4 linked regions of the Homo sapiens genome follow. The protein of the gene in region 3 interacts with the protein of the main gene of each other region in a pairwise test. Each region holds a gene or a part of one and is shown on either strand. Other genes may lie near its edges.

The links.
Region 1: the proteins of GFAP (region 3) and IL16 interact in binary tests that used the Homo sapiens proteins (3 or more experiments, as listed by UniProt).
Region 2: the proteins of GFAP (region 3) and ZNF410 interact in binary tests that used the Homo sapiens proteins (3 or more experiments, as listed by UniProt).
Region 4: the proteins of GFAP (region 3) and MLC1 interact in binary tests that used the Homo sapiens proteins (3 or more experiments, as listed by UniProt).

What each region holds. Positions count from the first base shown.
Region 1 is NC_000015.10:81,199,528-81,207,339, forward strand, and holds part of IL16 (pro-interleukin-16), read left to right. Parts: exon of another isoform or gene 1-283; coding exon of another isoform or gene 284-335; intron 336-873; exon of another isoform or gene 874-943; intron 944-7,812. UniProt on the Homo sapiens protein: Interleukin-16 stimulates a migratory response in CD4+ lymphocytes, monocytes, and eosinophils. Primes CD4+ T-cells for IL-2 and IL-15 responsiveness. Also induces T-lymphocyte expression of interleukin 2 receptor. Ligand for CD4.
Region 2 is NC_000014.9:73,917,255-73,925,066, reverse strand, and holds part of ZNF410 (zinc finger protein 410), read right to left. Parts: intron 4,088-7,812; coding exon 3,962-4,087; intron 3,002-3,961; coding exon 2,861-3,001; intron 2,369-2,860; exon of another isoform or gene 2,331-2,368; intron 1,673-2,330; coding exon 1,545-1,672; intron 366-1,544; coding exon of another isoform or gene 264-365; exon of another isoform or gene 248-263; intron 1-247. UniProt on the Homo sapiens protein: Transcription factor that binds to the sequence motif 5'-CATCCCATAATA-3', and is specifically required to silence expression of fetal hemoglobin in adult erythroid cells.
Region 3 is NC_000017.11:44,912,150-44,920,411, reverse strand, and holds the start of GFAP (glial fibrillary acidic protein), read left to right. Parts: upstream 1-4,911; 5' UTR 4,912-4,925; coding exon 4,926-5,386; intron 5,387-6,323; coding exon 6,324-6,384; intron 6,385-6,588; coding exon 6,589-6,684; intron 6,685-6,981; coding exon 6,982-7,143; intron 7,144-8,262.
Region 4 is NC_000022.11:50,074,665-50,082,476, forward strand, and holds part of MLC1 (membrane protein MLC1), read right to left. Parts: intron 5,734-7,812; coding exon 5,680-5,733; intron 5,356-5,679; coding exon 5,254-5,355; intron 2,839-5,253; coding exon 2,737-2,838; intron 2,249-2,736; coding exon 2,177-2,248; intron 1-2,176. UniProt on the Homo sapiens protein: Transmembrane protein mainly expressed in brain astrocytes that may play a role in transport across the blood-brain and brain-cerebrospinal fluid barriers. Regulates the response of astrocytes to hypo-osmosis by promoting calcium influx.

The sequences.
Region 1 (7,812 bases), on a different chromosome or scaffold from region 3:
CCGCGTGGAGATCTCCATCGGTCTTGCCCCTGGCTGAGTCTTGGCATGTGCAGCTGGGATGGAAATGCTCCTCCAGTGGACAGTTACAGCAGCTAAGACATGGCTACCTTGCTCAGCCAATAGGAGGCGGTCACCTACAAACATCCCTTCCAAAGGTTCAAGGCTCCCCTGAGAACTTGGATGCTGGGGAATGGTGCACCTTCCCTGCTGCTCACTGCACCTCTCACCTGGCAAAGAAAAGCCACAGGAAATCTAAGCCCTTTCTGCAGTCTGGCATCGGCATATGAAAGATTCCAACGAGGAATTTCAGAACTCATCCCAGCTCCCGAATCTGAGTAAGCACAGACCTCTTGAGTAGGGCTGAGCAAATGCGGCAAAATCAATGCACATATGACAAGATTCAGTGGCCCAAAGAAGGGAGCTAAATGAGGAATCAAAGCAAATACCCCATATGGAATTGCTGTAAAAAATCAGAGAAAACCTGAAAGTAGTGGTTTTCAAGCATGACCCACTAGTGGATTGAAAATCAACTTAGCGGGTTGGAACCAACTTCCTTTTTCTAAAACAAAAAAAGAATAGCATACATCAGATTGCATCAGGTTCTTAGCAAAATCATATTTTATATTATCTTTTTCATACCAAAGATATTTTATATTATTTTTATTATACCGTAGTAAAGGTATTGTTTCATGAAAGTTTTTAGTTATATATATTTATTTATTTATGTATACATATAAATCTTATGTGTATGTGATCCATGTACTATGATGTAAAATGTAAATTATTATGGTAAGTCAAGATTTTTTTAATTTTTAAAATTCTTTAAAAATTATTTTTATTTATTTATCTATTTATTTTTTGAAACAGGGTCTCACTCTGTTGCCCAGGCTGGAGTTCAGCAGTGCAATCCCGGCTCACTGCAGCCTTGACTCCGTGAGCTCAGGTGATTCTCCCCCTTCAGCCTCCCGAGTAGCTGGGACTACAGGCACACGCCACCACACCTGGATAATTTTTTGTATTTTTATTAGAGATGGGGTTTTGCCATGTTGGCCAGGCTGGTCTCAAACTCTTGAGCTCGAGTGATCTGCTCGCCTCAACCTCCCAAAGTGCTGGAATTAAAGTCGTGAGCCACCATGCCTAGCCTAGGTCAAGATTTTAAAAGTTTCATAAATAGTCCTGTAGAACACTGGGTGGAGTTTGGAATGGTGAAAATGTGTCAGGAGAGTATTGTAACTGAAATATTCCTGATCTTCTCTTTCAAAAAGATGGCCTTCTTCCCATTATCCAAGGCAAGGATTTCAGGCCTGAGTCAGCCATAAGCTCATCTGTCTTTTTTTCTGTACTTACCTCCTCATAAATGGATTAAGAGAGCCTCGAGCAATGGTGAGGGTTGGAGAAGGTGGACAGGTGGCCCAGTCTTATGCGCTTTCCCTCTCTTCCTTCCTTCTCCTCATCCTCCAAGGATGGTTGTAGCCAACTCCAGCCAAAGTGCAGATGCCAGAGAATCCTGCAGCAGTTGCTGAGAACACAGGATACCTGTCACATTTACTGAAGCAGTGGCAGGACAATGCATCCCCTGCATTGAGCTAGTTGTCAGAAGCAGAAAATAAAAAGTGTGTGTGTGTCTCTGTGTGTGTGTGTGTGTATGTGTGGTGAAAAAGAGAAATATATCTAAAAATAATCTTAAAAGACATGATATGTAATTTCTTACCAAAACTCAAGCCAAAGCAATCACACATACACCCACACACATGCACGCACACACCCCCATCCACACACACACACACAGAAGTAAATGACAGCAGTTGGACCATCAAAATCTGAAAAATTCTTTCAGGCCAAAGACTCCATAATGCTCTATAGCTGTTATTTTGCATTTCTTTGAATCTCCTCTCAGTTCTATTTAGAGATCACGAAATGTCTAATTTAATGGCCCTGCCCTTAGTTCTCCAGGAAGGAGATCTTAGTTGTTCATCCACGAACAACTTTTTGAGCCACTTTCCTACTTCTATTTCTTCCAGTAGGCAGATCATATTTTGGGTTTCTTTGTTTTAAGTTTGTGGTTTTTGTTTTTCCCTCTTTTTCTTTTTAGGTTGTAGTTAAGTGGTGTATACAAATTTATTAGCAATTTATTATATTGCCACTTTGTATTTTAATCTTTAATATTAAATTTTGTGTTTGGTAAAAATGCTGTAATTAGTAAAATGTAGAGTAATCAGTTTTTACCCATTCTCTGCTCTTCAATAACAGCTTGTTGAGTATTCTCTCTGATTTATTCTAGCATCAGACACACACACGCGCACACACTGTGCTGCAGCATGTTTTGTTTTCCAATTCTATGTAGCACAAAAAGACTTAACCTCATTCTTCTCCATATCTCAACAGTATTCCATGTATCTTGATGATCACTTACAATATAAGGCAAGTAAGCATAGGCAATTCATCAGATTTGAACCAGAGATGGGGTTACTAAGTGAACTATTAGTTCCCCAGAAGAATTAGCCCAAGCAAAGGTGTTGTACAGTATGTAAAATGTCTTTTCCTACTTTATACATTTTATCTGGCCAGAGAACACCTTTAAACATTAAATGCAATCATCCTTAGTCATTCAACAAATATTTACTGAGCAATTGATAGAGGCCATTCGCCAAGCTAGGCCTCATGGATCAACTCGAAATATGACAGACAGACTCTGCCCTCAGGGAGCTTAGAGTTCAGTAGACATGACCAGTGGTGACACAAGCCACTGGAGTAGCATCAGATGAGTGCTTTGGTAGTGGAAGAACCTGTTCTCAGAGCACAGACAGCTTTGGGGGTCTGTATTGGTTTGTGGTTTCATTTTAAAGAAGTGTTATCCAAAAATAGGGTTTGAAGAGTGATGAAAATTTAGCATCATCAAGGACTATAGAAAATTTGGAAGGCATATCTCCTAATGCTATCCCTCCCCCCTCCCTACACCCACAACAGTCCCCAGTGTGTGATGTTCCCCTTCCTGTGTCCATGTGTTCTCATTGTTCAATTCCACCTATGAGTGAGAACATGCAGTGTTTGGTTTTTTGTCCTTGCAATAGTTTGCTGAGAATGATGGTTTCCAGTTTCATCCATGTCCCTACAAAGGACATGAACTCATCATTTTTTATGGCTGCATAGTATTCCATGGTGTATATGTGCCACATTTTCTTAATCCAGTCTATCATTGTTGGACATTTAGGTTGGTTCCAAGTCTTTGCTATTGTGAATAGTGCCCCAATAAACATACGTGTGCATGTGTCTTTATAGCAGCATGATTTATAATCTTTTGGGTATATACCCAGTAATGGGATGGCTGGGTCAAATGGTATTCCTAGTTCTAGATCCCTGAGGAATCGCCACACTGACTTCCACAATGGTTGAACTAGTTTACAGTCCCACCAACAGTGTAAAAGTGTTCCTATTTCTCCACATCCTCTCCAGCACCTGTTGTTTCCTGACTTTTTAATGATCACCATTCTAACTGGTGTGAGATGATATCTCATTGTGGTTTTGATTTGCATTTCTCTGATGGCCAGTGATGATGAGCACTTTTTCATGTGTCTGTTGGCTGCGTAAATGTCTTCTTTTGAGAAGTGTCTGTTCATATCCTTCACCCACTTTTTGATGGGGTTGTTTTTTTCTTGTAAATTTGTTTGAGTTCATTGTAGATTCTGGATATTAGCCCTTTGTCAGATGAGTAGGTTGCAAAAATTTTCTCCCATTCTGTCAGTTGCCTGTTCACTCTGATGGTAGTTTCTTTTGCTGTGCAGAAGCTCTTTAGTTTAATTAGATCCCATTGGTCAATTTTGTCTTTTGTTGCCATTGCTTTTGGTGTTTTAGACATGAAGTCCTTGCCCATGCCTATGTCCTGAATGGTATTGCCTAGGTTTTCTTCCAGGGTTTTTATGGTTTTAGGTCTAACATTTAAGTCTTTAATCCATCTTGAATTAATTTTTGTATAAGGTGTAAGGAAGGGATCCAGTTTCAGCTTTCTACATATGGCTAGCCAGTTTTCCCAGCACCATTTATTAAATAGGGAATCCTTTCCCCATTGCTTGTTTTTGTCAGGTTTGTCAAAGATCAGATAGTTGTAGATATGCGGCATTATTTCTGAGGGCTCTGTTCTATTCCATTGGTCTATATCTCTGTTTTGGTACCAGTACCATGCTGTTTTGGTTACTGCAGCCTTGTAGTATAGTTTGAAGTCAGGTAGCGTGATGCCTCCAACTTTGTTCTTTTGGCTTAGGATTGACTTGGCAATGCGGGCTCTTTTTTGGTTCCATATGAACTTTAAAGTAGTTTTTTCCAATTCTGTGAAGAAAGTCATTGGTGGCTTGATGGGGATGACATTGAATCTATAAATTACCTTGGGCAGTATGGCCATTTTCACGATATTGATTCTTCCTACCCATGAGCGTGGAATGTTCTTCCATTTGTTTGTATCCTCTTTTATTTCCTTGAGCAGTGGTTTGTAGTTCTCCTTGAAGAGGTCCTTCACATCCCTTGTAAGTTGGATTCCTAGGTATTTTATTCTCTTTGAAGCAATTGTGAATGGGAGTTCACTCATGATTTGGCTCTCTGTTTGTCTGTTATTGGTGTATAAGAAAGCTTGTGATTTTTATACATTGATTTTGTATCCTGAGACTTTGCTGAAGTTGCCTATCAGCTTAAGGAGATTTTGGGCTGAGACGATGGGGTTTTCTAGATATACAATCATGTCATCTGCAAACAGGGACAATTTGACTTCCTCTTTTCCTAATTGAATACCCTTTATTTCCTTCTCCTGCCTAATTGCCCTGGCCAGAACTTCCAACACTATGTTGAATAGGAGTGGTGAGAGAGGGCTTCCCTGTCTTGTGCCCGTTTTCAAAGGGAATGCTTCCAGTTTTTGCCCATTCAGTATGATATTGGCTGTGGGTTTGTCATAGATAGCTCTTATTATTTTGAAATACGTCCCATCAATACCTAATTTATTGAGAGTTTTTAGCATGATGGGTTGTTGAATTTTCTCAAAGGCCTTTTCTGCATCTATTGAGATAATCATGTGGTTTTTGTCTTTGGTTCTGTTTATATGCTGGATTACGTTTATTGAATGCTAAATGACGAGTTAATGGGTGCAGCACATCAACATGGCACATGTATACGTATGTAACAAACCTGCACGTTGTGCACATGTACCCTAAAACTTAAAGTATAATAATAACAAAATTAAAAAAAAAAAAGAAAAAAAAGAAAATTTGGAAGGCATTGGAAGCAGCCTGCACCAAGTCCTGGAAGCTAGAGAGCGCATGGGACATTCAGGGGACTGAAAAGGTTTAGTGCTGTAATAGAATGGAGTTCAAGATAGGGCAGAGCAAGAGCCTGGAGGGGTTGGGGGAGCAGACCATGATGATAAAAAAATTGACAGGCCACAAAACAAGACAAATTTTAAGTCTCAGTGACGGTTGTTAATACGATTTTGAAATAAAGCAAATGATAAATCTTAGACCGGGCGCAGTGGCTCACACTTGTAACCCCAGCACCTTGGGGGGCCAAGGTGGGTGGATCATTTGAGGCCAGGAGTTCAAGACCAGTTGGCCAACCTGGTGAAATCCCATCTGTACTAAAAATACAAAAATTAGCCGGGCATAGTGGCACGTGCCTGTCATCCCAGCTACTCGGGAGGCTAAGGCAGGAGAATGGCTTGAATCTGGGAGGCGGAGGTTGCAGTGAGCCGAGATCACACCATTGCACTCCAGCCTAGATGACAGAGCAAGACTCCATCTCAAAAAAAAAAAAAAAATCTTGAGAGATGATATATAATGATCTATGATGTCCCCTAAATAGTCAATCACTCTGAGAGCACCTAGCACCTCACCTCTTGCATAGGGAAGAGGCATCAGATAGTGCCATTCTTGCAATCAATGAAGAGGAAAAATACAGGCTCAAATATTGCTTTGAAAAATTCTTTACATAGCCACCAGTAATATCAAATAAAATGAATGAAACCTATGATTCATTAAGAAGGAAAAGAAAGTGTGAATAAGTTGACTGGAAAACAAGAAAAGGAATAATTAAGGAGCCATAATAAGAAAAACAAAACATGTGAGAAGAAAGATGAATCAATTAAGCTCTGTAGTAAGATTACACATTAAAATAAAAGAGACTCTCAGATTCAGTTTAAAAAAGGGAAACAAAAAAAGCCTAAAGAAACAAACTCTCTCTCCCCAGTCCAATTATATCCCACTTTCAAGAGACACATTTAAAACTTAATCACATAAAGTTACAAATAAAGGGATAGGAAAATACTGTGCAAATGCAAATTAAAAGAAAGTGAGGTGTCAGTGTTAATTTTGTCAGACAAAATAAAAATTGAGGCAACTATTAAATAGATCAAGAATTACTTTTTTACAAAATGATAAAAAGAGCACTCAATGAAGGCATGAAAATCAGAAAACTTTGGGTAAACATAAAGCGTCGAAATATGTAAAACAAAAAAATTAGAGATATACTCCAAATATGGTGTTAGATTTCAATGTACACCACTGTTAAGATTTTTTCAGATTAATTAGACAAAATGTACATAAAGAGCTTGAATTCTATGACTTACAAAATTGAATATGTGCTTACATATATATGCAGTCATGTGTTGCATGGCAATGAAGATAAGTTCTGAGAAATTTCATCGTCGTACAAACGTTACATAGGGTACTTAAACAGACCTGGATGGTATAGCCTACTACACCCCAAGGCTATATGGTATTGCCTACTGCTTCTAGTCTACAAGCCTGTACAGCATGTTATTGTAGGCATTTGTAACACAGTGGTAAGTATTTGTGTATCTGAACATTTGTAACAAAAGGTACAGTAAAAATATGGTATTTTAATCTTATGGGACCACTATCATATAAGCAGTTCTTTGTTGACCATAATGACTGCATTTTAATATCACATTTGAATATATACATATTTGAAACCCAAAACACAGAATAATCATTCTTTTCAAATGTGCACAGAACACATAAAACACTTAGTCACATCACATACTGGCTAACAGAGTAAACCTCAATGAATTCCAACAAATAAAAATAAGACACATCCTGTGGCACGATGCAATTAAACTGGAATTTTCTAATAAAAAATTGTAAGAACAGCAACACTAAATCTGGGAAATTTAACTACATGAAATTAACAATAACACCAAAAATCTCCTGAAGAACTGAGTTTAAATTGGGAATCAAAACTGCAATTACAGACCATTCCTAAAATAACATTTAGAATATTGTATTTCACAATTCCTGGGTTGGGGCCAAAAGGATGTTCAGAAGAGAATTTCGGGCTTTAAATAATGATGATGATGATGATGATGATGATGACGATGACATGGTGGCAATAAAACCACCCAACAAACCATGCTAAGAAATTTACATCCAGGCCAGGTGTGGTGGCTCATGCCTGTAATCCCAACACTTTGGGAGGCCGAGGCAGGTGGATCACGAGGTCAGGAGATCAAGACCATCCTGGCTAACACGGTGAAACCCCGTCTCTACTAAAAAAACCACAAAAAATTAGCCAGGCGTGGTGGTGGGCGCCTGTGGTCCCAGCTCCCCTGGGGAGGCTGAGGTAGGAGAATGGCGTGAACCTGGGAGGCAGAGCTTGCAGTGAGCTGAGATCATGCCACTGCACTCCAGGCTGGGCGACAGAGTCAGACTCTGTCTCAAAAAAAACAAAAAAAAAAAAAAACAAAAAAAAGAAAAGAAAAAAGAAATTTACATCCAATATTTCAATTTATAATCACAGTGTTGCTGTGAGATGGCTAAT
Region 2 (7,812 bases), on a different chromosome or scaffold from region 3:
GAATAATGGAGAATATTCAATATAGGATGCAGAGTCATTTGAATGATGCAACAGCTTACTGTGGTATAAAGGTTATAATGAAAAGAAGAAGGCTGGGTGCAGTGGCTCACGCCTGTAATTCCAGCACTTTGGGAGGCTGAGGTGGGCAGATCACGAGGTCAAGAGATCGAGACCATCCTGGCCAACATGGTGAAACCCTGTCTCTACTAAAAATACAAAAAAATTAGCTGGGCGTGGTGGCACGCACCTGTAGTAGCAGCTACTCAGGAGGCTGAGGCAGGAGAATCGCTTGAACCTGGGAGGCAGAGGTTGCAGTGAGCCGAGAACGCACCACTGCACTCCAGCCTGGGCAACGGAGCGAGACTCTGTCTCAAAAAAAAAAAGAAAAGAAAAGAGGAGAAAAGACGGAAGAGCACCATAAAAACTAATGTAATACTGAAAGGATCCAAGCTACAGAGGTTTTGACAAAAGTTTATGCATATGAAATGTGCTCGTGATGAAGTCATCCACTCCCATGACACAAGACCAGTGAAATATCCCAAGATTTTAAAACACTGACCACTTTGCATTCTGTTTCCTGAGTCAAAGCCAAACTACAGAGTTGAAAGTGCTTTAGCTCAACCTCAAACCCTTTTTGTTTAGATCAGAAGTCACCAACCCCCAGGCCATGGACCAGCACTGGTCCGTGCCCTGTTAGGAACCAGGCCACACAGCAGGAGGTGAGCAGCAGGTGAGCAAGCATTACCACCTGAGCTCCACCTCTCCTGTCAGATCAGCAGCAGCAACAGATTCTCATAGGAGCGCAAACCCTATTGTGAACTGTGTATTTGAGGGATCTAGGTTGCGCACTCCTTATCAGAATCTAATGCCTGATGACCTGAGGTGAAACGAAACCGGTCCCTGGTGCCAAAAAGGCTGGAGACCATTGATTTAGGTAATGGTTCTCACTTAGCAAGCAAGTGAACAAATCTGTATATGCCCATTTGGTTAAGCCTGGTATCTCCCAGACATATGACCATAGCAGAATGAACAATAATTATGTTTAATGATTTTGTTACTACCTTTTTTGCTGAGGGACTTTTTCCAGGATGTTATTTCTGGAGAAAAGAAAGGGATCTCTAGGAAATACTTGCTCCTGTCTGGTACAGAAATTTCACCCAATTTACACAGGCCAGGCCCTCTTCTCTGAATAACTTAACAGGTGAGGTCAACATGCATTTATTCAGTGCCTGCTGTGTGCTTTTATAAAATAAAAGCTGTATCATGTTATAGTGTGGCAGAGAATAGTGGGAACAGACATCAACAAGGAATGTATATAAAAGAACTTTAAAGCCGGGAGTCCCAGCTGTGACAGACCAATCTCCAATTCATTAAGACCCTAACCCTCAGGCTCCTTTCAAGCTGAACTCATGCTTAATTTAAAGGAAAATATTCGTGCCAAAGTTTCCAGGAAATGGAAACTGGAGACTTTTTCAGGTCCTCTAAATTCTCAATCATTCCCCACATGAATTGTCACAGAAACAAAGGGCAAGAGACCACTTTACCTCTTGTGGATTTACTGCAGTTAAGACAGAAACTTCATATGATTGCCTCCCTGACTGCATGGTCACCAGGTGATGTGTCACATCAGGCACTGAAGACAGGGAACGTGGGGATCCTTCAGCAAGCACCTCTGTGAAGCAACAGAAAAATGTTTCAATGAAAAGTGAATCCAGAGATACACCTATCTGGATCATTAAGCCTCTCATTAACAACTCTAAAACTCTATTCCTCTATTTCCCACATTCCTCTATTTCTTCCAAGTTAATCCTGTCTGATAAGCATTATCAGTGAATTTGGAAAGTAATATAAAAAGAGAATAGAAAGGCAAGAAATCTTAATACAGGATTTAGAATAATATGGTGTTAGCACTTTTAACTGAATTAAAACTATGTATGAAACAGGCAAAAGTCTTAGGCAAGCAGGTAAGGGAACCAAAGCCACCCTTAAAAGCAGTCGCCAATGATACTAATAGCACTTACTAACTGAATATGATATGAGTAACAAAAACATAGGGTCTCACAGTTACTAAATGTTCATCAGTGGGATCACCATGAAAATCTTCTGGAAATAGTTTATGGATATACCACTTAGCCCTCAAAAAACTAGAAGTTTCTTCTAGGGGTTTTCTAGATTATACAACTATTTTATGCTGTACCATATAATTTAATGTTGGCTTATATACTATCTTTTATGTACTCAATGTTCTTTCCCATATATATGTAAGCTTTCACTTCTCAACTGGATTTTAAGGTCCCTATCTTCTACTTTTGTCTTTCCCATGGTGCCAGGCACACAGTAGGCACTGAATAAATGCATGCTGACCTCACCTGTTAAGTTTTTCAGAGAAGAGGGCCTGGCCTGTGTAACTTGGGTGAAATTTCTATACCAGAGAGGAGCAAGTGTTTCCTAGAGAGCCCTTTCTTTTCTCCAGAAGATATGGCTTTTGAAGGTATGGAGAAATTGCTTTATATCTCCTCTGTAAAACCTGGTTATGTTCTGTTTAAATGTTCTAAAAGTTAAGTTCTTCCATAACTGCAATAGGAAAGATAGAAATAGTTGGGCTAGGATGCTAGGATTAGGAATAATTTTTTCTTAAGAATTTTTTCTTTTTATTCTTTTATTATATTATCTTCAATGAAAAAAAATTTTTTTTTAAACAGATTGACTAATCCACCCCAGAGAATAAGAACACAAATGCTACTCATACCACAGCTACTCATAAGAAATGAGATTTAAACATACATTGTGGAGACACCCCATTCCTTAGCCCCTAGTTGCAGCCCATTTTTCCCAAATAAAGGAGAGTTGGAAGTCTTACCATCATCAACTCCCAGGATAGAATTGGTATTTGGTAGGTTCAAGGACTCTCCACCAAGGCTGGGCTGGGAATTCATAGACACCAGGTTTTTACTGGGTACTGAAGCCTCTTCAAGCAAACTACTGCCCATTAGTGGCTCAGCTGCACAGAGAATAGGTTGTGAGAGACATACAGCAATCAAGGCTGTGCCTGGTCCTCATTTTCTTTCAACAGAAGCTGGCCTTCTCTTTCATTACTAGAAGTTAACCTATAGATGGGATGCCACCCCCTATTTCACCTACTTTCGAGAAACAAGAATAAACCTAGAAGGGAAAGAGTAAGCCTTAGAAGATAATGATCCTTGCTTGTGTTCAGCGTCTGAAGAATTAGCATATGAAACAGGATAGGTGGATCTTTAGAAAGGAATATTTGGAATAATTAAGGAAAGATATGGCGAAGGAATAAGAATTAAAAAGAGTTATCAAATTTCAGGCAGGGCAAAAAGGTAGTCATGACTGGTAAATAAAATATGCTTCCAGCCTGGCCAACATGGTGAAACCCCGTCTCTACAAAAATATAAAAATCAGCCAGGTGTGGTGGCACCTGCCTATAATCCCAGCTACTCAAGAGGCTGAGGCAGGAAAACTGCTTGAACCCAGGAGGCAGAGGTTGCAGTGAGTCGAGATGGCGCCACTGCACTCCAGCCTGGGTGACAAAGCAAGACTCCATCTAAAAAAATTAAAAAGCTTAAACTCTTCCCATGTGGAAATCTTTTATCACTGTGTTACTCAAATGCTTGTTCATGGATCAGCACTAGTTACCATCAAACTCACTAGGGAAACTTTTAAAACTACAGATTCTAGGATCTTGCAAATTATCTCATTTATCAGATTGCTTTGTTTTATTGGTGGGCGGACAAGCAACAAAAAGTATATAAATTTTAAAAGGTTGCAGATGATTCTACTGTATAGCTATGTTTGGAAACCATCAGCCCATCAAATGAGACCAGGTCTATCTACCCAAAACAGAATCAGAAAATTTCCAGATAAGCAGGCAGGACAGTGATTTGGCTCTTGGAACCCTAGAAGTAGTACAGCGTTCCACTATGCCCACCCTCCTCACCAGTTTGCTCCTGCTCTTGACTCCCAGCTGCTCCCAGCTGCAGGTGATGCTTTCTCATATGCACATTCCTGCTTCCACTCTGAGAGAAGGTCTTCCCACAGACTTGGCACTGATGAGGCTTCTCTCCTGAAACAGGGACCAGGTTAAACAAGGAAGCCAAAAGGACAGGAAGAGAATGAACTCAAGACCTAGATGGAGAAACCCAGAGAATGTTAAACTGAACATAAGCAGCTGCTCCTTTTCCCATTCCGCACCTTCCCAGCCTCTCAAACTTCAGTATATGGGGGAAGGCAGGAAGAGTACACCAGGAGGGCTTTAGCACACTCCCTGCTCCCAGCTGCTGGTCCTTTCCAGACCTTCTGTAATGCTGCCTTCACAAAACCTCTTTGGTATAGGACCATGGCAACCACAAAAAATATGCCTTCTTTTTCAGTTAGTCTTCCATGGACCTCTAGGACATGTGCTTTCCTCAAGGATTTCAATCCTGTGTTCCTAATATCCCCTTGTCATATTCCCTGCCACCCTCTTTAGGGTCATCAACATTCACACTGGTGGCTCTTACAACATAATAATCTAAATTGTCCTCTATGTCTTCAAGTCCCAAACTCTCCGTCTCCATTCTACCTACCCAGAAAACCATACTTAGAGCAGGGGTCAAAAACTCATGTCTATAGGAGACTGATAGGTAGCAAAAGTAAGTAAAATGGCCAAGTGGGGGCTGCAGTAACCTAGAGAGTACCTAGAAAAGGGGCAGCTGTTATTCAGCTCTAGCCAACTGTTGCCATGGGTAGATTAAGGCAGATTCTCTGATTTTTTTTTAAGACACTGGAAATAAGGATTTTTAAGTAGAATCTCCCAATTTCTAAATGCTAGGAACAAATTCACAATTGACAAACACATGGTACAGCAATCATCATTGCTGATTGTATTTTGCTGGGAATGCAAAATACAAAAACCTCTTTGGGGGAATCTGACCAGATCTAGAAAAATTGTAGATGCACTTGCCCTTTGACCTAGGAATCCCACTTCTAGGAATATGTCCCAAAATTACAGCAGCAAAATGTGAAATACTCTGTGCACAAGGTTATTCATCACGGCAACATTATTTTAAATGGCTAAATACTGGAAACAACGTAAATATTCATCACAGAGACTGACTAAAAAGCTATAGATACTGCAGTAGTCCTGCATAGCAAAAAAAAAAAAAAAAAAAAAAAAACCTATACAATAGAAACAGGGTGGAATATTACAAAGCTTAGAACTAAAAACTGAATCACCATTTGAACCAGCAATCCCATTACTGGCTATCTACCCAAAGGAAAATAAACTGCTCTACCAAAAAGACACTTGCCCTCACATGTTCAATGCAGCACTATTCACAACAGCAAAGACATGGAATCAACCCAGGTGCCCATCAATGGTAAATACGATACAGAAAATGTGGCACATACACACCATGAAATACTATGCAGCCATAAAAAAGAACAAAATCATGTCCTCTGCAGCAACATGGATGCAGCTGGAGGCCATTATCTTAAGCAAATTAACACAGAAACAGAAAATCAAACACCATGTTCTCACTTATAAGCGGGAGCTAAACACTGGGTACTTATGGACACAAAGATGGGAACAATAAACACTGGGGATTCCAAAAGCGGCTACGGGGCAAGGGCTGAAAAACTACCTATCAGGTACTATGTTCACTGCTTGGTCAACAGGGTCATTAGTAGCCCAAACTTCAGCATCTTGGAATATACCCTTGTAACAAACCTGCACATGTACCCCCTGAATCTAAAATAAATTTATTTTAGCCAGGTGCAGTGGTTCACACATGTAATCCCAGCACTTTGGGAGGCCGAGGCGGGCAGATTACTTGAGGTCAGGAGATCAAGACCAGCCCGGCCAACATAGTGAAACCGCATCTCTACAAAAATTAGCTAGGCGTGGTGGCGGGCGCATATAATCCCAGCTGCTTGGGAGGTTGAGGCAGGAGAATTGCTTGAACCCAGGAGGTGGAAGTTGCAGTGAGCCAAGATCATGCCACTGCACTCTAGCCTGAGCCAGAGTGAGACTCTGTCAAAAAAAAAAAAAAAAAAAAAAAAAAAAAAGGCCGGGCACGGTGGCTTACTCCTGTAATCCAGGCACTTTGGGAGGCTGAGGCGGGAGGATCACGAGGTCAGGAGATCAAGACCATCCTGGCTAACACGGTGAAACCCCATCTCTACTAAAAATACAAAAAGGTAGCCGGGCGTGGTGGCGGGCGCCTGTAGTCCCAGCTACTCGGTACGCTGAGGCAGAAGAATGGCGTGAACCGAGGAGGCAGAGCTTGCAGTGAGCCGACATCACGCCACTGCACTCCAGCCTGGGAGACAGCAAGACTCCGTTTAGGGGAAAAAAAAAAAAAAAAAAAAAAAAAAAAGGCCATATGAAATGTCCAGAACAGGCAAATCCAGACACAGAAAGCAGATTAATGGTTGCCAGGGGCTGGAGAAAGAGAGACATGGTCAATGATACTAATAATGGGACTTCTTTTTCTTTTTTTAATCATCTCCTGGATATGGGGATCCTTTTTGGGATGATGAAATGTTGTGGAGTCGGACAGTAGAGAAAACTGTAAAACTATGAATATATAGTTGGCCATCCACATCCATTGATTCAACCAAGCAGATAAAAAATATTCAGAAAAAATAAAAATAAAAAATAACAGGCCAGGCGCAGTGGCTCATGCCTGTAATCCTAGTACTTTGGGAGGCCAAGGCAGGTAGATCACTTGAGGTCAGGAGTTCCAAGACCTGGCCAACATGGTGAAACCCTGTCTCTACTAAAAATATAAAAATTAGCCAGGCACATGCCTGTAATCTCAGCTACTTGGGAGGCTGAGGCAGGAGCATCACTTGAACCCAGGAGGTGGAAGTTTCATTGAGCCAAGATCGTGGACCACTGCACTCCAGCCTGGGCAACAGAGCGAGACTCCATCTAAAAAAATAAATAAATAAAAAATAACAATATAGCAATAAAAAATACAAATAACCAATATAGCATAACTATTCACATAGCATTTACGTTGTATTAGGTACTATCAGTAATCTAGAGATGATTTAAAGCATATGGGAGGATATGTGTAGGTTATATGCAAATACCATGCCATTTTATGTAAGAGACTTGAGTATTTGTGGATTTTGGTATCTGTGGGGTCCTGGAACCTATACACCACAGATAACAAGGGATAATTATATTACTACTAAAAATCACTTAGTTGCACCCTTTTCTTCTTTTTATATTTTAGATGGAGTCTCACTCTGTCACCCAGGCTGGAGTGCAGTGGCATGATCTCGGTTCACTGCAACCTCCCCCTCCCAGGTTCAAGTGATTCTTGCACCTCAGCCTCCTGAGTAGTTGGGATTACAGGCACATGCCACCACACCCAGCTAATTTTTGTATTTTTAGTAGAGATGGGGTTTCACCATGTTGGCCAGGCTGGTTTTGAACTCCTGACCTCAGGTGATCCACCCACCTCGGCCTCCCAAAATGCTGGGATTACAGGCATGAGTCACCATGCCCGGCCGGACTGCACACTTTTTTGAGATGAATCTTATGGTATGTGAACTATATCTCAACTTAAATAACCTGCATTTGCTTGTATATGCAAAAAGAACCACTGGAAAAGTAAACCAAATAGGAAATAAAAAGTGTTTATACCTATAAGAGAAGGAGGGAGGGAACATGGTAAAGAGACACACCTATAATCAAGGCTTTTTGAAAAAGAAACTGAAGCAAATCTACATATCAAGCTGGTGATATATTAAAACAATGATTTAAAGGGTATTTAAACATAGTATTATTCTAAGAAC
Region 3 (8,262 bases):
GTTCTTAAAGTCATCAAAGACTGCACAGCTACTGAGTGGCCAAGGCTTTGCTCCCTCTCCTTGAGGACAGTGCTATAGCAGTCAGAGTCAAGTCTAGAGAACAAAGCGGGTGATGCCCCTGGGTGAAACAAATTTGGGTTTTAGAAAACTCCGCCTACAGCTTTCTCCCTGCCTCTAAACTGCGGTGGCTGTGGCGGCTCACACCTGACCAGCTGAGCACCACCATCTAGTGGCCACCAGGCTCAGTTCCCTTCCTCGGGACAGGCCATGGATGAACAGACTTGCTGGTCACCAAGGCTCAGCCAGAGAGACTGTGTTCTCTTCACCCAGCTTGCTGACCACCACGCTGTGCCAGGCACTGGGCCAGGGCCAAGGGCCCAAGCAGAACCAGCGGGCAGCAGTCATGTGGCAAAACTGCCGTTTGAATTAGAGGCTGGCCTATTTGGCAAACACCAGGCACCCTGTGTGTGGGTTGATGCCACATGTGGGGCTGGTCTGTCCCAGGAGGCATCTGGGCTTTACCCTGTAAGCAGAAGGTCATCTAGCAGATTCTGATGTGAGGGAGGGGCTCAGGAAGGTCATCTTGTCCTCACCTCAGCTTGAAGCAGGCACAGCTTGGCTGTAGGCTCCTTGAAAGGGCATCCAGACTTCTCTCTCCATGGCTGGTATTATCCTGCTGTGCAGTCTAGAAGGCAGTCTAGGGTTTGGCCAGAGGCTTTAGAAGTTGGGGCCTTCCATTTGGGGAAGCAGGAGAGGAGGCACCCCAGAGAATGGGGCCTGAGCCAGGCTAGGAGGATGGGGGGTTTGGGTGGAGGCTGGACGGGCTGAGGGCCTACCCTTCTCTGTTTGCTGTGTCTGCCTGCAGCAGATGCAAATCAGAGTGTGGTTTAGAACAGAGAGAGGACAGTCACAGCGGCTCACATCTGTAATCCTAGCACTTTGGGAGGCTGAGGCCAGAGGATCACTTGAGGCCAGGAGTTCAAGACCAGCCTGGGCAACATAACAAGACTTGGTCTCTGAAAAAAAAAATTATCTGGGCACACTGTCATGTGCCTGTAGTCCCAGCTCCTTGGCAGGCTGTGGCAGGAGGATTGCTTGAGCTCAGAAGTCTGAGGCTGCAGTGGGCTATGATGGTGCCACTGCACTCTGGCCCTGGGTGGCAAAGTGAGACTTTGTCTCTAAAAAAAAAAAAAGAGAGAGAGAGAACATACTGTCATACTGTCCACCACTAGGGCTTGGTACATGAATGCATATAGTGGAAAATCATGCAGCTGTTAAATGATGATGCAGACAAATATTTATTGATGTGGAAAGATGTTCACAACATATTGTTGAGTGAGAAAAGCAAATTACAAAATAATTTGTACGGCATGAGCCCATTTTGAAAAAAATGATTATATATGTGTGGAAAAAATCTGGTAGTGTTTATCTCCAGGTGGCAAAATGATGGCTAATTACATTTTTTTGTATTGCTTATCTATAGTTTCTGACCTTTCTACAATGAATATTTAATTAAAAAGATAATGAAAGTTTGGAACACAACCACGACCAAATCTGTCTGTATCTTTGGTTCTCTGTGCAGACACCTTTAGATAGTTAAGGGTTGGCCAGGCGTGATCTATATGTACCGGTTGTATAGGTCATGCCTGTAATCCCAGCACTTTGGGAGGAAGAGGTGGGAGGGTCACTTGAGCCCAACAGTTCGAGACCAGCCTGGGCAACATGGCGAAACCTTGTCTCTAGTAAAATACAAAAATGAGCTGGGCATGGTGGTGTATCTCTGTGGTCCCAGCTACTAGAGAGGCTGAGGTGGGTGGATCGCTTGAGCCAGGGAGATTGAGGCTGTAGTGAGCTGTGATAGCACCACTTCACTCTAGCCTGGGCAACAGAGCAAGACCCTGTCTCAAAAAACAAAAACAAGATAGTTAAGGGTTGAGTGTGAGGAAAGGTCTGAGGGTTGAGAAGGGGTGGAGGATGCACCTGGGCCTATGACAGGGGTCCACGGAGGTGGCTGATGGCAAAAGCTGGGGGACTCCAACTGCTGATGCTGAAACAAGCTTGTGTCTCACATACACAGGGACAGTTCACTGAGCTTCAATGACAGGCACCTCCTGCTCATCACATCTTTTCTCTCTAGGACAGCTTTGCCCTTATTTTAACTAGACTTCCCTTGAACCAAAAGGGAAGGCTACATGCTGTGACTTGCTGGGCAGCCTGGAAAGGCGGGCCACTCCTAGCCACAGAGATGAGACAGAGTTCAGACAAGAGCTTATCCCCAGTCTTCCTTTTCTATTTTGTTTATTTTATTTTATTTTTTTATTTATTGAGACAGAGTCTCTGTCACCCAGGCTGGGGTGCAGTGATGCGACATTGGCTTACTGCAGTCTCCACCTCCTGGGCTCAGGTGATCCTCCCACCTCAGCCTCCCGAATAGCTGGGATCACAGTAGTGCACCACCATACCTGGCTAATTTTTTTGTATTTTTTGTACAGACAAAATTTCACCACATTGCCCAGGCTGGTCTCGAACTCCTGGACTCAAGCGATCCGCCCACCTCAGCCTCCCAAAGTGCTCGGATTACAGGCATGAGCCACTATGCCCAGCCTTGCTCTTCCTTTAAAGCCTCCTGTCCTTCCCCAGGTCCCCAGTTCATAGCAGGATCAAAGGTCACTGGGCGCTCACCCCGTCTTCAAGATGCTCTTTCCTATGTCACTGCTTACGCCCAGGTCAGATGTGACTAGAGCCTAAGGAGCTCCCACCTCCCTCTCTGTGCTGGGACTCACAGAGGGAGACCTCAGGAGGCAGTCTGTCCATCACATGTCCAAATGCAGAGCATACCCTGGGCTGGGCGCAGTGGCGCACAACTGTAATTCCAGCACTTTGGGAGGCTGATGTGGAAGGATCACTTGAGCCCAGAAGTTCTAGACCAGCCTGGGCAACATGGCAAGACCCTATCTCTACAAAAAAAGTTAAAAAATCAGCCACGTGTGGTGACACACACCTGTAGTCCCAGCTATTCAGGAGGCTGAGGTGAGGGGATCACTTAAGGCTGGGAGGTTGAGGCTGCAGTGAGTCGTGGTTGCGCCACTGCACTCCAGCCTGGGCAACAGTGAGACCCTGTCTCAAAAGACAAAAAAAAAAAAAAAAAAAAAAAGAACATATCCTGGTGTGGAGTAGGGGACGCTGCTCTGACAGAGGCTCGGGGGCCTGAGCTGGCTCTGTGAGCTGGGGAGGAGGCAGACAGCCAGGCCTTGTCTGCAAGCAGACCTGGCAGCATTGGGCTGGCCGCCCCCCAGGGCCTCCTCTTCATGCCCAGTGAATGACTCACCTTGGCACAGACACAATGTTCGGGGTGGGCACAGTGCCTGCTTCCCGCCGCACCCCAGCCCCCCTCAAATGCCTTCCGAGAAGCCCATTGAGCAGGGGGCTTGCATTGCACCCCAGCCTGACAGCCTGGCATCTTGGGATAAAAGCAGCACAGCCCCCTAGGGGCTGCCCTTGCTGTGTGGCGCCACCGGCGGTGGAGAACAAGGCTCTATTCAGCCTGTGCCCAGGAAAGGGGATCAGGGGATGCCCAGGCATGGACAGTGGGTGGCAGGGGGGGAGAGGAGGGCTGTCTGCTTCCCAGAAGTCCAAGGACACAAATGGGTGAGGGGACTGGGCAGGGTTCTGACCCTGTGGGACCAGAGTGGAGGGCGTAGATGGACCTGAAGTCTCCAGGGACAACAGGGCCCAGGTCTCAGGCTCCTAGTTGGGCCCAGTGGCTCCAGCGTTTCCAAACCCATCCATCCCCAGAGGTTCTTCCCATCTCTCCAGGCTGATGTGTGGGAACTCGAGGAAATAAATCTCCAGTGGGAGACGGAGGGGTGGCCAGGGAAACGGGGCGCTGCAGGAATAAAGACGAGCCAGCACAGCCAGCTCATGTGTAACGGCTTTGTGGAGCTGTCAAGGCCTGGTCTCTGGGAGAGAGGCACAGGGAGGCCAGACAAGGAAGGGGTGACCTGGAGGGACAGATCCAGGGGCTAAAGTCCTGATAAGGCAAGAGAGTGCCGGCCCCCTCTTGCCCTATCAGGACCTCCACTGCCACATAGAGGCCATGATTGACCCTTAGACAAAGGGCTGGTGTCCAATCCCAGCCCCCAGCCCCAGAACTCCAGGGAATGAATGGGCAGAGAGCAGGAATGTGGGACATCTGTGTTCAAGGGAAGGACTCCAGGAGTCTGCTGGGAATGAGGCCTAGTAGGAAATGAGGTGGCCCTTGAGGGTACAGAACAGGTTCATTCTTCGCCAAATTCCCAGCACCTTGCAGGCACTTACAGCTGAGTGAGATAATGCCTGGGTTATGAAATCAAAAAGTTGGAAAGCAGGTCAGAGGTCATCTGGTACAGCCCTTCCTTCCCTTTTTTTTTTTTTTTTTTGTGAGACAAGGTCTCTCTCTGTTGCCCAGGCTGGAGTGGCGCAAACACAGCTCACTGCAGCCTCAACCTACTGGGCTCAAGCAATCCTCCAGCCTCAGCCTCCCAAAGTGCTGGGATTACAAGCATGAGCCACCCCACTCAGCCCTTTCCTTCCTTTTTAATTGATGCATAATAATTGTAAGTATTCATCATGGTCCAACCAACCCTTTCTTGACCCACCTTCCTAGAGAGAGGGTCCTCTTGCTTCAGCGGTCAGGGCCCCAGACCCATGGTCTGGCTCCAGGTACCACCTGCCTCATGCAGGAGTTGGCGTGCCCAGGAAGCTCTGCCTCTGGGCACAGTGACCTCAGTGGGGTGAGGGGAGCTCTCCCCATAGCTGGGCTGCGGCCCAACCCCACCCCCTCAGGCTATGCCAGGGGGTGTTGCCAGGGGCACCCGGGCATCGCCAGTCTAGCCCACTCCTTCATAAAGCCCTCGCATCCCAGGAGCGAGCAGAGCCAGAGCAGGATGGAGAGGAGACGCATCACCTCCGCTGCTCGCCGCTCCTACGTCTCCTCAGGGGAGATGATGGTGGGGGGCCTGGCTCCTGGCCGCCGTCTGGGTCCTGGCACCCGCCTCTCCCTGGCTCGAATGCCCCCTCCACTCCCGACCCGGGTGGATTTCTCCCTGGCTGGGGCACTCAATGCTGGCTTCAAGGAGACCCGGGCCAGTGAGCGGGCAGAGATGATGGAGCTCAATGACCGCTTTGCCAGCTACATCGAGAAGGTTCGCTTCCTGGAACAGCAAAACAAGGCGCTGGCTGCTGAGCTGAACCAGCTGCGGGCCAAGGAGCCCACCAAGCTGGCAGACGTCTACCAGGCTGAGCTGCGAGAGCTGCGGCTGCGGCTCGATCAACTCACCGCCAACAGCGCCCGGCTGGAGGTTGAGAGGGACAATCTGGCACAGGACCTGGCCACTGTGAGGCAGAAGTGAGGAGGGGATGGGGAAGGGGGGCCTTGTGAGCAGAAGGGGCTGAATCCCCAAGAAGGAGTGCCCGAGAAGTCTCAGGGAGGGGCCGAACCTCCCTGCTCCCTGGGCCTCCCTACCTCTTGATGGGGCACTATCCTTGCCCCCCAACATGATGGGAGGGACCAGAAACAGGCCCAGGGCCCCGGGGATCTGATGCCCGCATGCCTTCTGCCAGGAGTCCAGGGTCCCCTCAGCACCTCCCTACTGGGGAAAGCAGTGCAGGAGCAGCGGGGCCCCTGTGTTTCATTCATGGCTGGGCTTTGTGACTGTGGGCAGCGAGCTCACCTATTCTGAGCCTGTGTCCATATAAAGGAGGAGTTGGAAGCGGAGAAGGTTGATGTCCATGAGGGAGATTGGATTCTGGGGTGAAGAAAGTGAGGGAAAGAGCAGGCAGGTCTGGGCGCAAAGCACAGGTGACTGCCTGCCACCAGCTTGTGACCCCCATCAAGTTACTTTGACTTGCACAGCTGTGAAGCGGTGGTCATAATAAAATTCATTTCAAAAGGTGGTTACCTGGGATCAGAGGAATCCCCAGGGGCATGGCGCTTCACTGAGCTGACAGGACATGCATGTGTGCCTTCAAGTGCAGGAGGACATGTGCGTGTGTGTGTGTGTGTGTGCAACAGTGAGTGTATGCTTGTGGATGCGCCTGTGTGAGCAGAAGCAGGTGCACCAACCCTGATAAGGCACCTTAGTAATGAGTTAAGGCAAAAGCCCACATCTGCTCATCCTCCAGACAAGTCCTCTGTCTAAGGCCCCCCAACCCTTAATCCTCCTGCTGCTCTACTGGTCCTGGGTGGGGGTGGTCTCTGTGACAGCTGCCTCAAGGGAGACTGAGGCAGGTATTCAAGTGTCCTCAGAAGAGCCTGGACCCAGGAATGTGTCCCCCCACTCCAGGCTCCAGGATGAAACCAACCTGAGGCTGGAAGCCGAGAACAACCTGGCTGCCTATAGACAGGTCAGGGAGGTGGAGGGGAGGGGCAGGGGAGGGAGGAAAGGATTGATGGCCACCCACCCAAACACAGCCCCCAAGCTCAGCCCGCCAGAGCAATGTGCTGCTCCCCACTGCCCCAGAAGGAGGGGTAAGGCAAGGCTGAGGAATGGGGAGAAGGAGCCTGGGGCCCCAGTGGCCCTCTACTCCTCACCCCTCCTGCCACTCCAGGAAGCAGATGAAGCCACCCTGGCCCGTCTGGATCTGGAGAGGAAGATTGAGTCGCTGGAGGAGGAGATCCGGTTCTTGAGGAAGATCCACGAGGAGGTGAGGCCAGGGCAGAGGGAGGAAAGCTCAACACAGAGATTGCAACTGAGAGAGGGAGAGACAGAGACAGAGAAGCTGAGACTGAGAGAGACACTCAGAGAGAGGAGAGAAACAGAGATTGGCAGGTAGAGACAGGAAATGAAAGACAAACAGAAAGACACTAAGGGAGACGGAAAGAGACAAGAGAGCATTCGAACTCCTGGCCGAGGGGCAGGCAGAAGAGGACACAATGGCGTGGGGAACCCCAGCTGTGGCCTGTACCCTGAGCCCTGGTACCGCTTCTCTCACCCTGGTCAGGAGGTTCGGGAACTCCAGGAGCAGCTGGCCCGACAGCAGGTCCATGTGGAGCTTGACGTGGCCAAGCCAGACCTCACCGCAGCCCTGAAAGAGATCCGCACGCAGTATGAGGCAATGGCGTCCAGCAACATGCATGAAGCCGAAGAGTGGTACCGCTCCAAGGTAGCCCTGCCTGTGGGCCAGCCTGCCTCCTCCAGGCAGCCCTTCTTGCTCTGTACAAGAGAATGGGGGAAGGAGGGTGGAGGAAGCTGGGAGAATATCCTCTCCAGGTGACTGACTTTCACCAGAGAAGTGAGATGGCTTGCCCAGGGTCACACAGGCACTATTGCTTTCAAAAGTACCCATTATTATTACTGCTACTATTGCTATTATTAGTAGTAGCTGATACTGTTCTGTTCTAAGCCCTGTGCTTTTCATGGATTACCTTACTATGAAGTAGGTGCTGTTCTTTGACAGATGAGAGAGCCGAAGTCCAGAGAGGTTAACTAATTTGCTCAAAGTCACACAGCTCCTAAGTGGTAGAGTTGGATTTCCAACTCTAGCACATCTCACTTGGGAGCCTGCATTCCATGCCTCTGCCAGTCTGTTTTGGGTTACTGAGCCTCTACCATATGCCAGGCACCCCCCAGGACACAGAGAGGTGTCTGACCTGGAAGGTGTGATATTGACGTGCACCCAAACATAGTGCCCGTAGAGAACACCACAGCTCAGAGCTTATATGTAGTGTGGGAGCCAGGAAAGACACTGTAGAGGGGGCATTTGGGCTAGGCAGGACAGGCACGCTGTGGACAGGAAGAGAAGAAGGGAGGGCCATTCCTAGTGGAGGACAGAGCCTGGAGGCAGAAAAGCACAGAGAGGCAGGGCCCCAAGATGCTAGCCTAGCCAGGGCACCTAGCTGAGGAGTGTGAGTGGCAGAAGCCACTGGTGTCTGAGCAGGGTGAGGGCCCGATGGGGCTGGGAGGACCTCCCTGCAGGCAGGGGAGAAAGGGCTATTAGAACCCAGGGTGAGGCCAGGCGAGGTGGCTCACACCTGTAATCCCAGCACTTTGGGAGGCCGAGGCATGCGGATCACCTGAGGTCAGCAGTTCAAGACTAGCCTGGTCAACATGGTGAAACCCCGTCTCTACTAAAAATACAAAATCAGCCGGGTGTAGTGGCGCATGCCTGTAATCCCAGCTACTCAGGTGGCTGGGGCAGGAGAATTGCTTGAACCTGGGAGGCAGAGGTTGCAGTGACCCGGGATTGTGCCACTGACTTCCAACCTGGGCGACAAGAGCAAGA
Region 4 (7,812 bases), on a different chromosome or scaffold from region 3:
TGTGGCAGGCGGCGGTGCTCAGACCCTGGACCCCATCGAAGGGACTCGGGAAAACAGGCCTGGGGCAGAAGTAGCTTCCCATAGGACACACCCACCCGTGCCATGTGGGTTTGCCATTGCCACGGCAACACTGGACGTCACCACCCCTTTCCGTGGCAATGATCCAACCACCTGGACGTTAGCACCCCTTTTCTAGAAATTTCTGCATAATCTGCCCCTTAATTAGCATATACTTAAAAGTGGGTATAAATAGGAGGCAGAGCTGTCTCTGAGCTGCTGCTCGAGGCACCTGCCGGTTGGAGAGCCCTGCTATACTGCCACTGCAAACAAAGCTGCTGTCTGTCACCTCCAGCTCGCCCTTGAATTCTTTCCTGGACAAAGCCAAGAACCCTGCTGGCCTAAGCCCTGGTTGTGGACTCATCTGCCCGGCACCATCAGGGCCGCAACCAGCACCGCCAGACTCAGGGAGGGGCCGCAACCAGCACCGCCAGACTCAGGGAGGGGCCGCAACCAGCACCGCCAGACTCAGGGAGGGGCCGCAACCAGCACCGCCAGACTCAGGGAGGGCTGGGGAAGAAACACACGCCCGAAAACCTGCTCCCGTGAAGGATCTCTGTGAGTCGCAAACACAGAGCTGTGGCCAGCAGGAAAGCCAGGCATAAGGAGTGGGCCAGCAAGGGCTTGGGGGCCGGAAGGGACCTGGGCAGCCAGGCCTTGCGTCCAGAAGGCACAAAACTCCAGATGCACAAATAAAGCTGAATTCCCAGCCAGGCACGGCGGCTCATGCCTGTAATCCTAGCACTTTGGGAGGCCGAGGCAGACGGATCGTGAGGTCAGGAGTTTGAGTACAGCCTGGCCAACATGGTAAACCCCGTCTCTACTAAAAATAACAAAAATTAGCTGGGCGTGGTGGCGGGCACCTGTAATCCCAGCTACTCGGGAGGCTGAGGCGGGAGAATCGCTTCAACTCAGGAGGCAGAGGTTGCAGTGAACCAAGATCACACCACTGCACTCTAGCCTGGGCAACAGCAGGACTCCATCTCAAAAAAAAAGGAAAAAAAAAAAAGAAGCAGAACGGAAATGGAACCTAAGAGAGGACTGAAATGCTAAATAAGGGGAAGTGAAGGCACTGGGAAACACACACAGACACAGTCAAGCACACAGGAGGCTGTCCCATTGTTGGAGTAAAAAGGCAAAATGTCACTAAATGTCACAAGCTAGACAACAAGGCCAAGGCGGAGGGAAGGGGGACAGACCCCGCATGGTCTGTTTATCAAGGAGCGTATTAGAATATGAAGGGCAACCCCCAAAAGAATACTGAAAAATTTCCCATCCAAAATTAGAGGGAAAAGGAAGGACGGAGCCTCTGCCAATTCAAAAGAAGGCAGGGAAGGAGGGAAAAAGGCAAAATCAGGGAAAATGGAAAACTCAAAAGATGGTAAAAATAAGTAGAAATTTATCAGTAATAACTCTCAGAGGAAATGGGCTACATTCAAAAAGCTAGGGAGAGAGAATGACAAGATAAAGAACAAAATACAGTTACGTGCTGCTTATAACAATTATACCAAAGTACAAGGCAAGAAAAGTTGAAAGTAAGAAGGAGAAAGAGGCCAGGTGCGGTGGCTCACACCTGTAATCCCAGCACTTTGGAAGGCCTGGGTGGGTGGATCACTTGAGGTCAGGAGTTCGAGACCAGCCTGGCCAACATGCCGAAACCCTGCCTCTACTAAAAATAAAATAATTAGCCGGGCGTGGTGGCATGTGCCTGTAGTCCCAGCTCCTCAGGAGGCTGAGGCAGGAGAATTACTTGAACCTGGGAGGCAGAGGTGGCGGTGAGCTGAGATAGCACCACTGCACCCCAGCCTGGCTGATGGAGTGAGACTCCGTCTCAAAAAAAAAAAAAAAATTCCTCGGGGACAACAGTGTCAACTCACCTACGGCAGTAACAAACTCCCCCTAAAAATTACAGGACACCAGCAGCACCTTTCGCGATAAGGAAGGTTATTACCAATGATACCAATAACAGACTAGAGTCTCCACAGATGAGGCGCACGCCGCCATGCGGTGTAGACAGCCAACTCTTCGCCAACTCGGAATCGAAACGTGACGTTTAATCCAGCCTCAGTCACCCCCGACAGAGTATGAGAGAAAAGAGAAAGAAGGGAAGTTTTCTTACTGAGTAAGATTTCAGGACCCGAGCAGGAAATGGCACTTCGTCCAGAATGTTGGCGCTGTCAGACATGGAGCCCTACGAAGAAACAGAACTGTCACCCCGGGTGCACGGGCACAGGGACTCAGCACTGCCGCTGGCATCCGGCCGCCGTGGGCAGTGGGTCAGGTCAGCCTGCCGTGTAGATGCGAGACCGCCTTGGAGGCGCCCGTGGATCTTTGGGCTTGAGGAAATGTTCACACACATTGTCCTTGCATATGAAAATTAGCAGATGTGGTGTCTCCTGGTGATCCCCTGGGGACGAGCACTGGACTGAGTCAGGCTTAGGGGGAGGGGAGGGTACAGCATCTGTCTTCACCTCCCTGTAGCCAGCGGCCGCCAACCCCTCACCCAGCTCCAGAGCCCCTCCTGGCCGGGGTTTCTGAGACCCAGGAGAGAGGGGTCTCATGGGAATGCCCTGGAGCAGCCCAGATCGGCCCTCCGAGGGTGACGCTGAGACCCACCTCGCTCACCCTGGGGTGATGCCTCTGCACCCCCTGCCCTGCGGGGTCAGAAGCTGCACCCACCTTCTTTTTCTTGCAGTCCTCCTCGCTGGACCGTGCAGCGATGATCACCGTGGCCGCCATGAGCAGCTCCAGCAGGAGCAGCAGGATGAGGTTGAAGTTGATCTGCCAAGGGGCACACACGCTTCAGCACCGGGCCCGCCTTTCTCACGCCACCGCGCTTCAGCGTCCACCGGACCACCTCACGGGCAGGCTGCGCAGGACTCTCAGCCACGGTCCCCACTTTTCCCATCCAGGGCCAGCTGTGAGGCACTGTGGGCTGCACACTCTCCTGCCTCACATGGGCCTTTGGGGTCTTTTAGTTTTTAAAACCATTCTTAGTGCAAAGGCTGTACAAACACAGGCCAGGGCTGGATTTGGCCTTGGGCTCTGGTCTACCGACCCCATTCTGAACGCTCCTTGTTCCCACAAAAGCCTTCACGGAATGTTTAGAGTAGCTTCATGCATGATTGTCAAGCACTGAGAACATAAGGTTTTTTGGAGGGTAATGAAACGACTGCAGGCCCTGACCGTATTGGCAGTGACATGAATTTATATGTGTGTTAATATTCATAGAAGCATACATTTTAAAAAGTCAGTGTAGCTGTCTGACAATTTTTTTTTTTTTTTTGAGACGGAGGTTCGCTCTTGTTGCCCAGGCTGGAGAGCAAATGGCGCAATCTCGGCTCACCGCAACCTCTGCCTCCTGGGTTCAAATGATTGTCCTGCCTCAGCCTCCCGAGTAAGCTGGGGTTACAGGCACCTACCAGCACGCCCGGCTAATTTTGTATTTTTAGTAGAGAGGGGTTTCTCCATGTTGGTCAGGCTGGTCTCGAACTCCTGACCTCAGGTGTTCCGCCCACCTCGGCCTCCCAAAGTGCTGAGATTACAGGCGTGAGCCACCGCGCCCGGCCTGACAATTTTTAAAATACATTTAAAAAAGAAAGAGTGCAGAACCACATTCAACTAAAAACAGAGCCTCGAAATATATGATGTCATAACAGAGCCACAGGAAGATGTAGATATATCAGTAGAGGTGGGGAAGGACTTGAAACACTTTTCTTAGAAACTGACAGATCAGGCAGAGGGAGGCGGCTCACGCCTGTGATCCCAGCACTTTGGGGGACCGAGGCGGTTGGATCACCTGAGGTCAGGAGTTCCAGACCAGCCTGACCAACATGGTGAAACCCCTTGTCTACTAAAAATACAAAAATCAGCTGGGTACGGTGGCGCACGCCTGTAATCCCAGCTACTCGGGAGGCTGAGACAGGAGAATTGCTTGAACCCGAGAGGCGGAGGTTGCCGTGAGCCGAGATGGAGCCACTGCACTCCAGTCTGGGCGACAGAGCGAGACTGTCTCAAAAAAAAAAAAAAATGACAGATCAAAAAGACAAAAGCATAAGGAGAACTCTAAAATTCAGAAAAGTGTGACATTAACCTTGTCTTTTATTTTCTGTATTTCTGGTGCTTTGACCTCTGGCTCCTTCCTGATCCTGAAGAGACAGCTCCTCCCAGGGCCAGCCGACAGCTACAGTGAGTAACTTGCCTCTGAGCAGTTCAGATACAAGCCACTGACCCAGGGACCACACCCCATCTGCTCTCCGTCTTAATAAAGAAGCGTCACAGGCCGGGCGCGGTGGCTCATACCTGTAATCCCAGCACTATGGGAGGCCGAGGTGGATGGATCACCTGAGGTCAGGAGTACAAGGCCAGCCTGGCCAACATGGTGAAACCTTGTCTGTACTAAAAATACAAAAATTAGCCGAGTGTGGTGGCACACGCCTGTAATCCCAGCTACTCCAGAGGCTGAGGCAGGAGAATTGCTTGAACCCGGGAGGTAGAGGTTGCAGTGAGCCGAGATGGCGCCACTACACTCCAGCCTGGGCGACAGAGCGAGATTCCTTCTCAAAAACAAAACAAAACAAAACAAAAAGGCAGTGTGGGTGTTCCCACTGGGTCCTCCTGTGTCTGCTCATTTTTCCTGCCCAACGAGAGTGGCCAGGACATACTCAAGCCTCCTCCAGCTTTCCCCAATCATCAAGTGCATTCCACATGTCACACAAAGCAGGAGGCCCTCCTTGCAGTATCTCGGATGAGGTCCTGGTTTCCTTTGGGATTTTTGTCTTTTTTTTTTTTTTTTTTTTTTTGAGACGGAGTCTTGCTCTGTCTTCCAGGCTGGAGTGCAGTGGCGCCATCTCGGCTCCCACAACCTCTGCCCCCTACAATTTCACATTTTTGTTTAGAGGTGCATTGAACAACTGTCTTACACAGATTGGATGAAACATAGTATTATGTCACTGTTAATTTTTAAGGACTGTTGGAAAAGACATTGTTTACCAATAAATCTGTCCCGCAGAATCACGAGACTTCAATAAAGACAATTATTTTCTTTGGATGCATAAATCTCTCAACTTTAGTCAAACTCACGAGCTGTGAATAACATTTACCACCTATTTCCAGCTCAACAAACATTTGCTGACACCATTCGTGGGAGTGGGGCTGTGGGTGTCAGGCGTCTGCGCGAAGCTCGTGTGAACTCACGTTTATTGCTGATGGGTTCAGGACTAGTTTGCATCCAAACCAAATTAAACACGTAGTGGTCACAGCAAACGTGGAAACAAACAATATCTGAAAGTTGGGAATCTGAAAAACAAGGCAGGAGGGGTTTTCCTTCTTTGAATAATAAAAGAAAAAAGGTAACAGATAAACCACACTTCAGGCCATTCACTAAAAATTATCCTGATTAGGACATAATGGTGGGGAGTCCTGCGTGCTCAGCCCGCTCTCCCCTCTGTGCGGCAAAGGCTGGGCTGGGCAGGAGCTTTACTGTCTGGGGGGCAACCTCGGGGGCCCCTCTCGGTGCCACAACGTCTGTGCGTGGGCACACACACAAGCACACATGGGCACACTGTCTGTCAGCCCCTCCGGCTTTCTCCCTGGCAGAGGCTGCCTGCAAGCTAGACTCACCACATTGGCGTTCCTCCTGGAGACGGTGAAGCTCACAATTGCCGAGGGGATGCACTGGAATGAAACCGGAATCCCATGAGCCTGCCGCTCACCTGAGCAACTGAGACTCTGAAATACTCTAACATTTGCGCTTCCAGAAGGATCTGAATCATATTCACAAAACAGTGTTGCCAGTCCATGCAACACAGTGGGTTGGCTTGACTAGAAGGCCCCCAGGTACTTCTCAGTTTTAATTTTTTCTTGAGATGGGGTCTCACTCTGTTGCCCAAGCTGATCTTAACTTTGGGCTCAAATGATCTGTTCACCTCAGCTTCCCAAAGCCCTGCGATTACAGGCATGAGCCGCTGCGCCCAACCCCCAGGTACTTCAAAATAATTTATTCTGAAAGAAGTTTTTATTTTTCTGATGTGCTAAAAAGATATTTGTTAATGAAGGCTCTTCTAGCTGGATAAGCTTTGAAGCCTAGAATGTAACTCACGCAGGCACAAGACCTGGTCTTTGCTGAAAATTACCCAAAAAAGGAAAAAGTATCAGCCGGGTGCAGTGGCTCACACCTCTAGTCCCAACTACTCCGGAGGCTGAGCTGGGAGGATCTCTTGAGCCCAGGAGTTCGAGGCTGCAGTGAGCTGTGAATACTCGGTGATAGAGTGAGACCTTGTCTCAAAAAAAGAAAGAAAGAAAGAAAGAAAGAAAGAAAGAAAGAAAGAAAGAAAGAGGAGGTCTGGTGCAGTGGCTCACACCTGTAATCCCAGTACTTTGGGAGGCTGAGGCGGGTGGATCAGAGTCAGGAGTTTGAGACCAGCCTGGCCAACATAGTGAAACCCCATCTCTACTAAAAATACAAAAAAAATTAGCTGGGCGTGGTGGCGGGTGCCTGTAGTCCCAGCTACTCAGGAGGCTGAGGCAGGAGAATTGCTTGAACCCAGGAGGTGGAGGTTGCAGTGAGCAGAGACGGCGCCATTGCACTCCAGCCTGTGTGACAGAGCAAGACTCCGTCAAAGAAAGAAAGAAAGAAAAAAAGAAAGAAAGAAAGAGGAAGGAAGGAGCAAAGGAAGTAGCAAGACTCTGCATGTGAGGGAGGCAGAAAGGAGTCCCACAGCCTTCTTGTCCTCAGCCTTCTTGTCCCCACAGGGCCACACCAAGGCTAGGAGTCCAGGGCCAGGGAGGGAGGTTGGGACGTCAGGGACAGGGAGGTGGATGGAGTCGGGCCAGCCCAGGCCTGTGGCCCTTGCCGTGCAGGGCCTTGCTCCTGCAGCCATGGGACCCCGGGCCCTGAGTCGGGGGTGCAGGCCCTGAGGGGCTGAGCACAGCAGTGCTGGGTGAGGAGGCAGAAGAAGCCCCGTCGGGGCCTGAGCGAGGGGCAGAGCTAGGGCCAGGACAGCCAGGCTCAGCTCAGCACCCACTCAGGTGCCACGAGGGCCCAGGGTAGAGAAGAAAGGCCGGGGGCAGGGCCGAGTGGGGCCAAGGCTGGGCGGGGGTGGGCACTTGCCCATATCCGGCAGCCGCTGAGGCTGAAGGGGCACAGCTCACAGCTCCACTGGGACAAGGGCGGCTCCCATGGTGAGGATAAAGGCCACGGAGAAGCTTCCAGAGAGGGCAGCAGAGTGGGACGGGTCACCTGCCCCAAAGGGCTTTGTTCTAAGGGAGCAGAGACCCAGGACAGCACGGGGCGGGGCATCCACTTTGTTTTTAAGACATTTCGGGGGCGCTGCTGGGGACAGTCACCAACAGTGTCCCTAGAGAAAGGGCAGGGGCCAGAGACCCAGCAGGCATGTGGAAGCGAGAGGAGGGGAGAGCTCGGGACCAGCTGAAGCAGGAGGGGCGTGGGGTCCGCGGCTTGCGGGCCAGAGGGGCATGGGGTCCGCGGCTTGCGGGCCAGAGGGGCATGGGGTGCGCGGCTTGCGGGCCAGAGGGGCATGGGGTCCATGGCTTGCGGGCCAGAGCCCAGGGGTCAGCCAGCATGGTGCTCTAGCTGCCGGGACGCTGGGGAGGCAGTGGCCGGGGTTCACAGAGGACCAGGGGACAGCGGTTGTCTGTCCTCCCTTGCTCTGAGGATCAGTGGGTGCCTCCACCGGCCTTGGCACTGTGTAAGTTTCTAAAAACACAACATGAAGCTTTGGGAGGATGTGGGGC